2 separate regions of the Homo sapiens genome follow, and region 1 is linked to region 2. The links come from fine-mapping of genetic effects on gene expression. Tissue or cell type: testis. Region 2 holds a variant in brackets; the other region holds the start of a gene. All regions are shown on one strand. Distances are from middle to middle.

What was found. PIP is the estimated chance that this variant, and not a neighbour inherited with it, causes the effect.
Region 1: GPRIN2 starts here. The variant in region 2 is fine-mapped to the expression of GPRIN2 in testis (GTEx, PIP 0.99).

Annotation. Positions count from the first base shown.
Region 1 is chr10:46,554,600-46,558,927 of GRCh38, forward strand. GPRIN2 (G protein regulated inducer of neurite outgrowth 2) reads right to left here and starts at 2,059. Exons shown (of 3, transcript NM_001385282.1): 1 at 1,899-2,059; 2 at 1-96. RefSeq lists enhancers at 1,390-2,095, 2,801-3,506.
Region 2 is chr10:46,656,628-46,660,955 of GRCh38, forward strand. No RefSeq gene overlaps it. Among named protein-coding and RNA genes, the nearest start is that of LINC02637, 29 kb to the left of the region's middle. The variant A/G (reference allele first, on the strand shown) is at 1,919.

The sequences.
Region 1 (4,328 bases), 100 kb before region 2:
CCTGCCCCATTTGATGCCGAAGTTGCTATGGTTGTGGCCGATGTCCCGTGGCCAATGCCAGGCTGTCCTGCTGCCTCAGGTTCCACCTGTCAGCAACTGGAAGATCAACCACCTATGTAGCAATCAACCAATGTCATTTTGAGTAAAAGCCCCCAGTTCTCAGACACTTCCAGACTAGCCCAAACATAGAGACCTTTGAGTCAACGTACAGAGTCCAGCTCCCGCCATGCTGCCACAGCAGAGGAGCCCAGGCCTTTGGGATATGCCCAGGGGACTACCAAGACCACCACAAGTGGGCTCCATCTCAGACAACACTGTGGCATCCATCTAAGTCCCCTCTTGGTTTTGTTCGTTCGTTTGTTTGTGAGACAGAGTCTCGCTCTGTCTCCCAGGCTCGAGTACAATGGCTCAGTCTCGGCTCACTGCAACCTCTGCCTCCTGGGTTCACGTGATTCTCTTGTCTTAGTCTCCCGGCAGCTGGGATTACAGGCGTGCACCTCGGCGCCCAGCTAATTTTTGTATTTTTAGTAGAGATGGGGTTTTCGCCATGTTGGCCAGGCTGGTCTCGAACTCCTGACCTTAGGTGATCCACCTGCCTCGGCCTCCCAAAGTGCTGGGATTACAGGCATGAGCCACAGCGCCTGGCCCAAGTCCCCTCTAGTTAAGTGGCAAGCATTTGGATGATGACTTATGTGTCCGGCAAAACCAAAACAGGAAAAGCAAACCTATATGATCAGGCAGGAAAACTGGTTCTATGTTAAAATATGGACCTTACCTCTCAAGGACCAGGCAGGAATGCACACAGCACAAACCCCCATTGCACAGTGGGGATACAGCACCCTCCAGGAGGTGGTTTAATCCACCCCAGAGTGAACGGGGCCTGATAGGAACACTCAGGGCCAACTCTGGGCAAAGCAGCAGGCAGCATTCCTAAAGGGAGGGTTTGGAGGAGACAAAACCTGCCCTTCACAATGAACGTGCCTTAAGGGCTACATGCCCCGGGTCACAAGCTGTGCCAGGAAAGGGTTCTGGGGTAACTGTGGGGTCAGTGGCCCCATGGATGAGGCTCTGCTCACCAGGAAGAGGCCTAGGCGCCCAACAGCCCCTGAGCTTCCTCCCCTGGGGAGGATTTGCCCACAATCCCTGGGGGGCACCTAGGTGGAGAGGGTGCCCCGGCCTAGAAGCAGCCTAGGCGGCCGGTGTGTCCCTATCTGCACGCTCACAAGCACTCATGCCCCAGCCTGGGACACACAGGCCCGTATGCAGTAACAGCGTCTACCCAGCTGCACTCTGCACGCCAAGCACAGGCCGCCCCTGCTGCGGGGCCAAAGGCCTGAAAGCACCGCACCACGCAGCCTCGCCCAGAATAGCTCCCCTCCCGCCCCTCCTGCACAAAGCCCACCCGGACTTAGGGAGAAGGGGGCTCAATACGGGCCCGAAACGAGGCTACAGACCTTCTCAGGAGCAAAGGCAGCGACTGCAGGCAAATGGGGCTGTGGGCCGGGGTAATGATGCGGGACAGGAGAAGCCAAAGGGCAGCAAGGCTGGGGGCGGGGTAGGCGGCGCAGTAGGCTGAGGGAGGGGAAAAGGAAGAAGGGGAGAGGGAGGAGCGATGGCAGCAGGGGTGGAGGCCGAAGGAGACAGGGTCCCGGACAGACTTGTGAAAATGGGAGGATGGGCAGAGGAGACGTAGAAGAGGGGACAGGACAGGACAATGAGAGGCGGAGCGCGGGGAGTGCGATGCGGCCACCGGGGGCTCTGGGCGCTGGGCAGGGGCCAGGATGCCGGGGGTCTGAGCGCAGGCAGCGGGAAGGAGTGGGTTCTGAGGCTCAGCAAGGGGGAGGTGCCGCCCACCACGCCCCCCGCCCCAACGGGAGCGCGCGGAGCCAGCCTCTCACCCTCTCGCCCGCCGGGGCCGCGCAGGCGGGGGAAGCGCTGCTCCTGCGGCCGCCACAGGTGCCAGGTGCCGCGGCCCAAGATGGAGCCAGAGCCGACCTGGCCTGGGCGCGAGACGCCGCCCGCCGCCGTCGGCCCGGCCCGCGGAGCAAGCGCCGGGTACAGGGAGGGGCCAGCGGGGCAGCTGGCACCGGGGCGGCGGGAGGGGCGGCGGGCGGAGACCTCGCTCACCTGGGCCCGTGCCACTCTGGAGCCTGCCACCGCCCCGCCGCGGCCCGGGATCTGCGTCCGCGCGCCCCCACCCCTCCTTCCCGACCCCTCCTCAGGCCGGGTCCCCACTGTCCTCGGTCTTTTCGGCCCCGCCCGCACCACGACCGCCTGTTCTCCAGGCTGCCCAGCGAACCCCCAAGACTCCCACTTCCCCGACGCAACCCCACCGTCCCGGGTGTATAGGCGCAGCTCCCCACGATTCTCCGGCCCCAGACCCAGCCCCTCAAGTCCACCTCCTCGTAGCCCCACCCCCTCGCTCCAGTGCCCCTCGCTCCAGTTCCCCCTCCGCACCACGCCCCGCATTGAGGTCTCCGCGCCGGCGGCTACCCCTTTCCTCTCGCCTTCTCCATCCTAGCTCCGCCTCTCACAATTCTCTGGCTCCAGATCCCGCCCACGAGACCCCGTTTCCTATAGGGCCCTTTCGTCTGGGATACCAGGCCTGGTCTCCACTAGCCTCGGACTTTCCAGCCCCAGGTCCCAAATCCTGGACCCACCGTCCCATCCTCTGAGCTCCACTCTCATGGACCCCAAACCTCACTCCAGTCCTTTGAACTCCATGATCCTGGCCTGGCCTGGCCCCCGGAGCCCTCCATTGCCCCTCAAGAGCCCAGCCTGGTAGACTCCTTCCCTAGGGTTGCATCTCCAGCCCCGCCCCTGAAGACTGGTAATCTACCACCCCTTTCCCTGCCCACGTGCCCCTACCCAGCCCGACTTGAGGCCTTCAGTCTCCCAGCCGCGGACCCCAACAGCGGGCGAGGGCAGTGACCGTGCGGGGATGAGCCACCTCCACTGGAGCCCGCCTTCTTCTCCGCAATTCCCCGCAGCACCACAGCGCCTTCCCGGTCCCGTGACGCCGGGGGCCAGCCCAGGCCCTGGGATCGCCAGGTTCCACACTATGAGGCTGAGGACCTGGGCCTACGGTTCCCTCAATATCCCCCAGTTTCCACAACCGCTGGCCAGCTTCAGGGCGCAGGACAGGCAGCCCCGGCCTCCCGCCACTCGCAATAGATTCCTGCTGTCCACCCAGGGCCACGTGGTATGAGGCACCTGTACTATCTCTGGGCCCCAGTATCACATAATTGGGTCCCAATGTTGGCACTTCTCCGTTGTCCCCTGTGCCGGGACCCCCAACTTGTTGGCCCAGCCCTGTGCTGAGAGGCCTGCGTTCCTCCCTTCCAGTGCCCAGGAGCCAACAGTATCTCTAATTCTCCCCGTTTGGGTAGCAAAGGACCTCAGTCTGCCCAGAGAGACTCAGACTGCCCCAGGTAGCCCTCTCCAGCGAGGTCTGAGAGCAGCTCTCAGATTCTGGCAGATGGCTGCCTTTGGCCAAATGCCCACAGGGGTGTCGACGTCAGACCCCAGGCTTGGGCCTCACCATCACACACTGCCTGGTAGGGGGATCCTGCTTAAAGGAGGCAAATAGGGGATTTGTTTGCCGAGGCCACTACCCACTTCTGCCCCTGTCCAGGAATTAGGACCTCTGCTTCCACATCTTAGGCATCTTACTCATATTCCCTCTTTAGTGAAGTCAGCTGAGCCCCAAGAAGGGATGGACTGCTTGTGGTTACACTGAGAGTTGGTGCCAGATCCAGGCCCCAAACCTGGGGCTCTCAGCTCCCAGGACATCTCAAGAACCAAGAACCTCACTGTGTGTTTCAAGGAAGCCTTCTTGGGGCTGGGTGTCAGGAGATGTCTGCCATGCAATCTACCTGTGAACACAGCTGGCTGGCCCTCACCCCAGGGCATCACTCCTTGTCCAACTGGCCCCCTTCTTCCATTCATGCCCTGGCAAGGAGGCTCCCCTGGCTGTGGCAGCTGTCCAGGGAGAACCCAGCATGGGGAGTCACACTTAAATTCCAATCTCAACTCCCCCACATATTCACTGGCTGTGCAACCCCACACCCAAGCAAAACTGTTCATCTCTCTGGGCATCAGTTTCCTCATCTGCAGAGTGGTAGTAATTATACCTACCTAACAGGGCTGGGGGAAGAGGGTGTTTGTGAACGTGTCCCGTGGAGTGTTATCGCTGCTATCAGTCACTTGATCAAATATTTACTGAGCTCCTCCTGGGTCAGGTCCTGGAGGTACAAGCTGCACTGCATGGGGGAAGGAAGGGATGGATATGTGTAGATTGCTTTGGTAGAGAGCAGCTCAGGCCTGAG
Region 2 (4,328 bases):
TTATTATATATAACTGTTATTTCAGTGTGCCTTCACTTATTTGTCTAAATCAGGGGTGTCTAATCTTTTGGCTTCCCTGGGCCACAACGGAAGAAGGAGAATTGTCTTGGGCCACACATAAAATACAGTTAACACTAATGATAGCTAATGAGCTTAAAAAAAAAAATCGCAGGCTGGGCGCGGTGGCTCATGCTTATAATCCCAGCACTTTGGGAGGCCGAGGTGGGCAGATCACTTGAGGTCAGGAGTTTGAGACCAGCCTGGCCAACATGGTAAAACCCCGTCTCTACTAAAAATACAAAAATTAGCTTGGAGTGGTGGCACACACCTGTAATCCCAGCTACGCCAGAGGCTGAGGCAGGAGAATCGCTTGAACCCAGGAGGTGGAGGTTGCAGTGAGCCAAGATCGGGCCACTGCACTCCAGCCTGGACAACAGAGCGAGACTCTGTCTCAAAAAAATTCTCAAAAAAAACTCATAATGTTTTAAGAAAGTTTACAAACTCATGTTGAGTTGCATTTAAAGCCATCCTGGACCACATGCAGCCCCACAGGCTGTGGGTTGAACAAGCTTGGTCTAAACAAATACCCTTGTAAGTGTGGAACTGTTACCCTACCCTCCTTACCCCCCCCCCAAAAAAAAAAAAACTTGACTAGAAAGTGGCCCTATTAATTCAAAAAATAGTAAATTTTTAAAAAGTGTTTATACCAAAGGCTACTGCTACTAAATACTCCAATTTATAGGAGTTGTGAGTATGTGAGTAGGAGGATGGAAACTGGCAAGGGCAGGGGGAAACAAAATACGTATGATAGCCAAATTATACAGACAGAAAAGTTATGGACAACTGATTAATTTCAATAATTCTAGGATATGTTTTAGGTGTACTCAGAGGGTTAAAGGTCATTAAGATACCAGATGAAACTTGCAAGTACATCTCCATTACCGCAGTTAATAATTATACAATTTCTCAATCTGCAGAAGGCCGCTTCAGTCGGAAAAACCAATACAACCATAATCCTTTATCTTTAGAGTGGTCAGAGTCTGATGAATGGGTCAAAGATTTCTAAAACAGGATGAACTGTATCAGCAGGTTTTGTCTTTGCAGAACACTGCAACTAAAAAAAATGCTTATTACAAAACATGTATCATTAAAAGAGAGTGCTTTTCCCCTCTTATTACCAGGGAGTGAAAAAACTCCCTGTAGTAATGCCTTTTCATGTCTATTTTACCAAAAACACCAAAAAAATCATAAAGTTGCTCAATAGCATCAAATGACAAAGAAGCCACATGGGATTGTAATTAAAAGCAAGGGATTTGGAACAAGAGAGATGTGGGTTCAAATTACTACTCTGCAACTTACTCAAACTTGAAATTATTGAAGTTAAGTGATAGTTGCATGGGGTTCATTATACTATCCTTTGCTGGTGGTTAAAGAAAATCATCCTTTTATTCTTTGACCTGATTGAACCAAATTCAATTTGCTATCATAGTTCATTTGTGTTAACAACACAGTACTAATAACCCACGTACTGTGTATATTCATGCTGAACTCTTTTAAGAATTACTAAATGTTGGGAGGCTGAGGCGGGCGGATCACGAGGTCAGGAGATCGAGGCCATCCTGACTAACACGGTGAAACCCCGTCTCCACTAAAAAATACAAAAAATTAGCCGAGCGTGGTGGTGGGCCCCTGTAGTCCCAGCTACTCGGGAGGCTGAGGCAGAAGAATGGCGTGAACCCGGGAGGCGGAGCTTGCAGTGAACCAAGATCACGCCACTGCACTCCAGCCTGGGCAACAGAGCGAGGCTCCGTCTCAAAAAAAAAAAGAATTACAGGCCGGGAGCAGTGGCTCACGCCTGTAATCAATCCCAGCACTTTGGGAGGCTGAGGCGGGCAGATCACGAAGTCAGGAGATCGAG[A/G]CCATCCTGGCTAAAAGGGTGAAACCCCGTCTCTACTAAAAATACAAAAAATTAGCTGGGCGTGGTGGCGGGCGCCTGTAGTCCCAGCTACTCTGGAGGCTGAGGCAGGAGCATGGCGTGAACCAGGGAGGCGGAGCTTGCAGTGAGCCAAGATTGCGCCACTGCATTCCAGCCTGGGCAACAAAGCCAGACTCCATCTCAAAAAAAAAAAAAAAAAAAAAAAAAAATTAGTAAATGCTTGTACCTAAATTTACTCTTTAAAATAATAGAAAATGTCCACTTTTTATGCGACTTATGAAAGGATATAAGATGATTTTTTTCCTCAGAAACAAAAGCAGTTGAAGTTTAAAGCTATCGCTCATTTAGTATCTCAAAGTAATAGCCACTAAAGCCAACCTGTGAGCAGACAACTGACTTCTCGACTCTCTTTGCATAACTTTTAATTTCCTTTGCAATTGTCTTTGGTATTCATGTGAGACATCTGTAATCACATTCTCATCAACAACTGAGATGCCTTAGGCCAGTGTGGGTGAGCCTCTCTTATTCTGGCTTGCAATACAACGGGAATTTCTCCCTTTCACTCTTGTTCCAGGGCATTTGCCTTCTCCCAATAAAGTCCAAGCACTCAAACAGAAAGTGAACTTTACTCTAGCTGGTTTTCTGGCCTTAGGAATAGGGTGAGGCCAGGTGCAGTGGGTCATGCCTATAATCCCACCACTTTGGGAGGCCGAAGTGGACAGGTCATGAGGTCAGGAGTTCAAGACCATCCTGGCTAACACGACAAAACCCCCGTCTCTACTAAAAACACAAAAAATTTGCCAGGCATGGTGGCATGTGCCTGTAGTCCCAGCTACTCAGGAGGCTGAGGCAGGAGAATCGCTTGAACCTGGGAGGTGGAGGTTGCAGTGAGCCAAGATCGTGTCACTGTACTCCAGCCTGGGCGACAGAGCGAGACTCCGTCACAAAAAAAAAAAAAAAAAGAAAAAGAAAGAATAAAAAGAATAAGGTGAACATGCCTTCTGATTTGCCCAGAACAGTCCTAGTTTAGGCATGCCCTTCTGGTGTCCTGTTTAGTCAGGATCTTTTTTCCTTCTCAAAGGGTTGGAGATAGACTATATGGTATTCCTAGTTAAGAACCATATAAACACATGAATAAATATTCTATTAATGAAGAATGTGCCTTCTAATACACTTTATCTAAAATATTATAACAGGATTAACAGGTAAAGGGAAACATTGCTCAGTTTTCCTGTTAAAATATTTAAATAACAATGAAATACTAATTGAAATAAGGTTGAATTTTGTCTAAAAACTATGATACACATTTGAGACTCTCAAGACTGAGGTAAGACTCAAATGAGGTAAGACAGAGAACCCATGTTTGGCAACTAAGGGGGAAAAAAAGAGGATCATGGCCGCCAGGTCTGTGTAATGAAGCTATGAGACAATGGGATAAGAGTTTTTTGGATCCAGCATTACTAGAAAATGTCTCAGCCCAGATGTCATTTGTCCAATGTCACGCCTAAGGTCGAAGAAGAAATCCTCAAATTCCTAAAATATCACACTTTGCCTCCCCATCCACACCATGCAACATCAAAAGGCCAGAATTTGGCCACGCACGGTGGCTCAAGCTTGTAATTACAGTACTTTACTTTGGGAGGCTGAGGCAGACAGGTTGCTTCAGCTCAGTAGTTCGAGACCAGTCTAGGCAACATGGTAAGACTATGTCGCTACAAAAAATTTTTTAAAAAAATTGCTGGGTAGGGTGGTATGTGCCTGTAGTCCCAGCTACTCAGGAGGCTGAAGTGAAAGGATCACCTGAGCCTGGGAGATCAAGGCTACAGTAAGCCGTGATTGTGCCACTGCACTCCAGCCTGGATGACAGAGTGAGACACTGTCTCTAAAAAAAAAAAAAAAAAAAAAAAAGTAAAAATAAAAAGGACTGAACTTTAAAACTAGTAATCATGAACTCACAGGTAGGTGCCAGGGGTATGCCTGCCAACCCCTGTGCTTGCTTTCATCTCCACCCACCTCCCACAAAAGATGAAAAACAAAACAAACACAATCAAGAAAAATTAAAAAAAAAAAAAAAAGAACTTTGCTACTTATGCCTTGACATTCCTTTGTGAAAAGTCATACTCAGCAAATAACAACTCCACTATCCCAATTCCCCAGGCCAAAAACCTTGGCATCATCACTGATATCTTTCTTTTTCCCTGTGCTCTACTTCCAATTTCTCATCAAATCCTTTTGGTCCTATCTTTAACGTTCATTCAGGGTTTGACCACTTTTCTCCACCTCTACCTGCTACTGCCTGGCTCAAATCACCATCCTTCTTCCACCACCATCCCCCTAGAAAACAGAGTTTACAAAAGGAACTTGCCCCAGGTCAGGAAGACTGCAGGTAGTG